2 linked regions of the Homo sapiens genome follow. The protein of the gene in region 1 interacts with the protein of each later gene in a pairwise test. Each region holds a gene or a part of one and is shown on either strand. Other genes may lie near its edges.

Region 1 (3,751 bases):
GTAAATATTCTTTTCCTGTGTAAATGCAATTATAGTCTTTGCTCTATTTAATTATACTAAATAAATAGCTGCTATTTATTCTAAACAGATAATCCAATCAATATAGATGGGCTTAAAATTTTAAGTATTCTCACTTTAGTGACAAACACCTTGGGGATCTTAAAGGACTGTTTTATTTATTGATACCAGTCACTGTCAATATTTTTGGTTCAAAGACGCTTTCATATTCGATTTTCTGATAGAAGACAACGCAATGAAAACTATCAAGTTGCTTATGAAAAATTCTTAGGATGACACTGCACCTAATGTTTGTAGTCAGTTGTTTGTCATTCTTTCCCTTGTCCTATGCTGTGTCCAGGACTGCTAGATAAGTAGGTACCCAGCATCCTAGCGTCCAGATATCAAAACCATGAAAATGAAGCACTACAAGCCAGACAGATAACCTCCAGAGGGAGCAAACGAATAAACCCCCAAATCCTGTGGATCTAGAAGTAGAAAATAATCGCTGAACCACTGATTTGAGACCAATGAGAACATTAAGGACACCTCAAAATAGATCAGGGCACTGTTCCTAGCCCAACTCTGTGGCAGAACATAAACCTGCAAGAAATAGGATTAACATACTATCTTTGCAGTAAGTTAAATCCTGAACTTCTACAAAATACAGTTTACTCCAATTTAGTTACACTCTTCCTGCTTCTGGTGTCTTACCTCCACGTTGGACTAAGGTTTTCAATTCGGTGGTGGAATACTTACCTATTAAAATTACCCACTTTGCTTTAGTGTGAGTTTCTCAGCATGTTTTACACAGGAGTGACCTGAATGACTCGGAAGTGGCACTTGAGTGTGCCAGGCCCTGGAATTTAATGGTATGGTTCTGTGGTTGTTGTCTGTTTGCGGTTTTATTGCTGAATTAGTAGTAACCACAGTAATCACACCCTTTCTCATTTCTCAGGCTTGGGGATTTCGTCCACCTCTGGCGGGTTGGTTCCCCTGACGTTTCTTAAAGTTACTGTGAATTTGTTCTGGTCAGTACCATAGAGTGTATTATCCTAAGGAGGGCCACTGTAGGGCCGCTAGGACTAGAGGCAACTTGAACTTCACAAGTTAGCAGAGCAAGGACTCCCTGGAACACCGAGTTAGGGCCACGGGGTCTGTTTGCTCAGATTGCCCGCCAGCCCTGGGAAAGGAGTCTGGGGGCGAGCAGGCTGGGTTCCCGGGTCTCAGTCGCCGCAGTGGTGGCTACAGACTGCGCATGTGACCCAGGGGCCGGCGACGCAGGTGCCGGAGAGCGAGGAGGAGGGCGGCGTGGAGGAGGGTACTTCCGGGACCGGCGGGCGCGCGCTGGCAGCTCGCCGACGGCGGGGGCGGGGGCGGGGGGCGGCAGGGGAGCGAGCGCGCTGGCGGCGGGCGGTGGCGTTGCGCGCGGGGTGGCGAAAGGATGTGCGCGGGATCGCGGGGGAGGGGGAGGGAGCGCGCGGGCTAGCTGGAGGCGGGAGGGGGCGGAGCCCTGTGGCGTCTGAACCCGCCCCGGGGGTGCCAAGGTGCGTCTCCAGTCTGACGCGACCGCCTGGGGCGGAGTCAGCGGGACGTGCCACCTGCAGTGCTGGCTAGGGCTTTTTATTTACTAGGGAGCAGTTTCCCCGCGCGACAGTTCGGGAGCGCGCAGGCAGTCGCGCGCACACACGCACGCAGGCACACACACACACACACACACACACACACACACACTTTCGCACACACAAACACGCTAGGACGCTCGTCTTCGCTACTGCATCCCCGAACCAGCAGAGCGAAGCTACTGCGGGTTCTGTTAACCTCAGCATCGTGGGGCGAAGCAGAGCCATTGTGCATCAAGGAGAGGCCGGTGCCTGCGCTGCCGTCTCTGGCACCTAACCCAGCAGACCGCTCACCCCATCGGGTAAGCCAGTCTCTCTCCTTGTAACCTGTTCTGCAGACCTGAGGAAGAGGGTGGGAGGCTGCTGGTGCGCCAAGTGGGGGCAGACCCGGAGTTGACATTTCAGGGGCTTGCAGCCCATGCAGCCTCTGCCCGTGTCGTCTAACGGGAGCAGCCACTACTCAGGTTACTTATGCTGCCAGCCCTGGAGTCGCTCCCCCTTTCTTCCCTCCCCCTGAGCCCAATATGTACTGTGCTCCTTGGTTGCCAAGGAGACTTGCTTAAACATCAGCCGTGGGACATCTATTGAAAGAACTGGTTTCTTAAATGATGCCGTTATTTATTTTGATATTTAAAATAAAATATACACTGAGGACCTTTCGTAATTTGGCATTTGTTAATCTGTATTCAGGTGGCGGTTTCATTCAACTTCAAGAAAAGCCGTAATTGCACTATATGGTATGCTTTAAAAAGGATTCGTCAGATGAATTTTTCAACGGATTGTGTCTTGAATCATAATTTACTCCCATTTTGGTGATCTTATAAAGAAAGATGACTGCAGTTTAGATCCCTTCTTCCCCTCTATTTCCAGTTTTATTTTGCAGTTCACTTAGTCGTGATTATTTTAAATTAAAAGCAGATGATTTAATTGTGTTTCCCCACACAAGAATGAGCTTCTATTGTAAATTGACCAGAACAGGAATACGTTTGTGAATTCGTAACGTAAGAAGGTAGCATTCATGACATACATCTTTGCTAGCATTTTTATATCCCCTGCATCAGTATTGAAGCGCAGTTTTTTGCACCTCTGCTCATTTCTGAGAAGATTCTGTTTTTTAAAAAATCTCTTATTGATTATTTTTAGATCTATCTCTATACACAGATAGAGATAGATATAAAATGTGTGCCATGGCTTACTAGAGCTTATATGAAAGTGCAGTGGTTTTTGCTTTTTGTTTTTTTTCTGATGGGACTGGGTCCTCTACTGGAACACTGATAGGCCAATGGAACAGGTCAGCCTAATACCTGGGCTGTCAGTTTTGTTTTATTTTGAGGTCTCGGGTGTCTATTGGGTGAACTTGTAACACAGTACTTGAAGGCATCAGCAATCCAGTAATTACACTTTGCACGAATTTCATGCCTCCATCACAAACAAATGGCCCAGTAAAGATCCACTGGCATTCAAGAATTAATTTTGTTTTCCTTGGATATTTGTTCATCTTTTCTACTTCTTGTTAAATGACCCAAGGAAATAAGTCAAATTCTTCTAATTTAGATTTTAAACTCTGTCATAGAGAGTGTAATAAATAATGTGAGGAGCAAGTAAGCCAAATAATGACAGAGGTAGATAGAGGGGATTTATGCAATTCACAGAGCTTTGGGAGATGAATGATGACAAACATTTTACATTACAGTGTAGAAAGCACTTTTCATATACTTCTTTTTTAATCCTCACAACAACCCTTTGAGGCCAATAAATTACCTTCCATTTAAAGCTGAGGAACCCAAGACTCAAACCTTGCTGAAGGTCACAGCTAGTGAATGGGGAAGCCCTTTCTGGATCCAGTCTCCTTGCCTTTAAAAAAAAGTTGTGTGTGCGTTTCAGATGTGTGCAGGGATCTGACAAGTGAGATAAAGGAGTGGAGCAGGCCTAGACAAGACACGTGGGAGAGAGGGTAGGGAGTGGAGTGTGAACTGTGGCCTCTGGAACTTGCAAACCACTGTAAAGGAGGCAGCTCCCACTCCACTGTAGCCGATTGTTACTGTCCAGGCTCTAAAACATGACAGTTTTTTAAGGAAAACAGAAGCTTCTGGATTTTTTTTATGAGGTATCCTTAATTTTAAAAACTGTAA
Region 2 (3,651 bases), on another chromosome or scaffold:
TGTCATGTCCCTCATTTCCTCCTAGGACCTCAGAAGGGGCACCTTTAACATCCATATTTCTACTGACCACCTCTTCAGGGCAATCTAGGCTTTTTCTATCAAGTGCTCATTGTCCAATTCTTTCCATTCCCCAAGCCATTTCCCCATTTTTGGGTATTTGCTATGGTAGTACCCCACTTCCTGGTACTAAAACCTCACACATGATAATGACAGCCCCACACTGCTCAGGTTTGTGATGGAGAGAAGCAGGGAGTCTGCAGGAACCTGGGGCAGGCCCCTAACAGCCTGGGAGATCAAGGAGGGCTTCCCAGTGGAGGTGACATTTGACCAGGCCTTGAAAGATGGGTAGGAGTTGGCAGGCGAGAGGCAGGCATTCTGAGCCAGGTGGAGGGCCAGGTGAGAAGTCTCCATCCCCCCAAAAGTTGTCCCCTTGGAGCCTGCAGGTGTTGATGGAGTGGATCAATGCCACTCTTCTCCCCGAGCACATTGTGGTCCGCAGCCTGGAGGAGGACATGTTCGACGGGCTCATCCTACACCACCTATTCCGTAAGTGGCTGTTTCTGGGGCTGCCTGGGCCTCGGCCCCATCCCCCTGACCTGGCCCCTCCAGGGCCCACAGGTAGGCTCTCTCCTTCAGTCCCCACAATGGTCCCGGGTTTAGGGACACCTGTCTCACTTTCTAGATGGGCCTGGGCTGGGGAGATGGAGGCGCTGTCCACAGCCCATGAGTGAGGGGGCCGAGCTGGGGCTCAGGGTGGGGCTCTGACGCCAGGGTTGGTGCTCTTTCTACCACACCACACTGCCTCTCTAACACTTATTGAGTGCCTGCTGTTTTGAGGTGCTGGGAGGTAACAAAAGAACCCATGATCCCTGCCCTCGGGCTGCCCTAGGCTGCTAGAGAGAAAACGGGCAGTCCTGGGTGGCTGGGGGCAGGGCTGGGCTCCTGTCTCCGTGTTCCTCCTCAGTCTGGAAAGCTCCAAGGGGCTTTGCAGGGGATGTGCATTCTCAGGGCCTCCTCCTGGTCCCGGGCAAGTGTTCCCCACAAGCCCCAGAGTCACCCTCTCCTTTGTCCTTGTATGGTCATGTCTGGTCTACGCATCTCTTCTGCACACAACTGTGGTCTCGGAGGCCACAGATAGGCCCAATTCCATGTCCTCAGCACTTCGCCTGAGGCCAGCCTCTGCAGTGTTCGCCGAGCTCTTTGGAGATGGGCTGCACAATCCCACTCATGCGGCTAGCACTTCCGGGCATGTCCCATGTAGCAGGTGCAGTTCATCCTCAGAATAGCCCTGTGCTGTTACTGTCCCCATTTCACAGATGAGGAAAGGGAGCCTCTGAGAGGCCTCATAATTTCTCCAAGGTCTTATGGTTAGGGAAGCAGGGGGGTCAGGATAGAAGCCTAGGAGTGTAGGCTTTAACCACTAGGCCACACTGCCCTGCAGAGATGAAGTGGACACAGCTGTGCAGAAGGGCAGGGGCTGCAGGCACAGGCTGATCAAGGTGAGGTGGGCTCTCTCAACCAGCTCAGGGGGCTGAGGCTTGCTCACATCATGTGGCCTGCATGGCCCACCAATCCTGTTCTGTGTAGATGAGGGTCTCCTGGAAGCTGGAGGGCATACCCGATTGAGGCTGTGAGTGTGGCCCACGGTCCAACACCAAGAATGGGCTCTCCAGACCCATGTTCCCTGAAGCACCAGGCAGGCTCAGCCTCCTGGAGGGTCCCTGAGGTGCTCTCTGGTCTGTCCCCGGCCAGGGGTCCTCACCACCCTCTCCTGCCTCCAGAGAGGCTGGCGGCGCTCAAGCTGGAAGCAGAGGACATCGCCCTGACAGCCACAAGCCAGAAGCACAAGCTCACAGTGGTGCTGGAGGCCGTGAACCGGAGTCTGCAGCTGGAGGAGTGGCAGGCCAAGTGGAGCGTGGAGAGTACGTGGGCCACAACCTGGCTACCCCTGGGGAGTGTGGGGCCGCTGGGGTCCTTCTGCTTCAGGCTTCTCACCCACCAGGAAGGCGCACTCATCCTTCTCCCAGCAGGGGTACAACCTGGGAGTCAGGAAGGAGGTAGAAGCCTCAGGCAGCCACAGTCAGGCATCTGGCTGAGCAGCCAACAGCCCAGCACACATCTGTGCCCTAGAGGGTGTTACTGCTGCAAAGTGCAGCCCAAGGATAGCAAACAGTCTCTGTTTGCTATCTGAATGACAGCCACTGTTGAGTTCCAAGTACCGTGGTCCGCCCATCCACACTCTCATTTCATTAAAGTATTGGAATATCTGCAGGGCCTGCTTATACAAAAAATGAGTGTGCCTGGTCGGGTGTGGTGTCTCACACCTGTAATCCCAGCACTTTGGGAGGCCGAGGCGGGTGGATCACCTGAGGTCAGGAGTTTGAGACCAGCCTGGTCAACATGGTGAAACCCCATCTCTACTAAAAATACAAAAATTAGCTGGGCGTGGTGGCCGGTGCCTGTAATCCCAGCTACTCAGGAGGCTGAGGCAGGAGAATCGCTTGAACCTGGGAGGCAGAGGTTGCAGTGAGCCCAGATTGCACCACTTCACTCCAGTCTGGGCTACAAGAGTGAGACTCCTTATCAAAGAAACACAAAAACCAAGAGAGCGTGCCAAACACCTAGACTTCCCCACCCCACCTGGTTCACAGTTTGGTATAGATTTCCTTCCCTTCAATTCTCCATATCCCCCCACCCCACCCAGATGAGAAAACTGAGGCTGAAAGAAATTATGCAGCTTCTCCAAGGTTGGGCGGTGAGGATTTAACAGAGTCCGTTTTCAAACCCAGGTTTTGTTGGGTCCCATGCGCCTGCATTCGCAGCCTGTAAGGTCTCACAATCAGTAATTGATGTTGATGAAATCAACCCTGAATTAAGTCACATGCAGCTGAAATCTAATGATCGTTCAGCCAGTGCCTTCCCAGAGGTCACTTGGTTGTTTCCGATTGTAAACAGTGCTGCAGTAAACATCTTTGTGTCTAGAGCCCCTTCCACAAGGTAGATCATACCCCTGGGCTATATTCTAAGAAGTGAGATGATGGGGTGAAGTGTGATGATTTTTAGGTTCTGAACACGTATCTCCAGATCTCTGCTCTCCAGAAGGCTGGACACAGACCTCCTTGGTCTGCAGATGGTTGTTCTGACAGTGAGGAAGCCTCCATTTGGCTGCACGTTTTGGCGGCCTCCTGGGCTCTGACCTGTCTCCACTCTCTTCCCAGGCATCTTCAACAAGGACCTGTTGTCTACCCTGCACCTCCTTGTGGCCCTGGCCAAGCGCTTCCAGCCCGACCTCTCCCTCCCAACCAACGTCCAGGTGGAGGTCATCACTATCGAGGTAGCAGCCTGGGCCCCAGGGATTTGTAAGCAGAAGCTGAGCCTCTTGGGCCCCCATTGCCGTACCCTGCATGGGTGGAGCTGGCTGGGGCGGGGCTGACCCAGGGTGAGTTTCAGGGAACCCTGAGAAATAGAATCCAGCCAGGATGGCCAGGGGGTGCTGTCTGGAGCTGGGGACGGGCTGGTAAGGGTCTAGTGGGGCTGGCGGAGGCCTGGGGGCATGAGGAGGTCCACGGCTGGCCAGCTCCACTTGACCTCAGCAGAGGGCATCTGGCTGGCAGAGGCTGAGGCCAGGGGCTGTCAGGCCATATCCCTGAG

Evidence for each region. Proteins that work in one complex are often made in the same cells at the same time.
Region 2: the proteins of KLHL32 (region 1) and PARVG interact in a two-hybrid assay, tested with the Homo sapiens proteins (one large-scale study listed by BioGRID).

Annotation. Positions count from the first base shown.
Region 1 is NC_000006.12:96,923,106-96,926,856, forward strand, and holds the start of KLHL32 (kelch-like protein 32), read left to right. Parts: upstream 1-1,622; 5' UTR 1,623-1,921; intron 1,922-2,309; exon of another isoform or gene 2,310-2,356; intron 2,357-3,751.
Region 2 is NC_000022.11:44,187,333-44,190,983, forward strand, and holds part of PARVG (gamma-parvin), read left to right. Parts: intron 1-443; coding exon 444-546; intron 547-1,781; coding exon 1,782-1,922; intron 1,923-3,218; coding exon 3,219-3,334; intron 3,335-3,651. UniProt on the Homo sapiens protein: Plays a role with ILK in promoting the cell adhesion and spreading of leukocytes.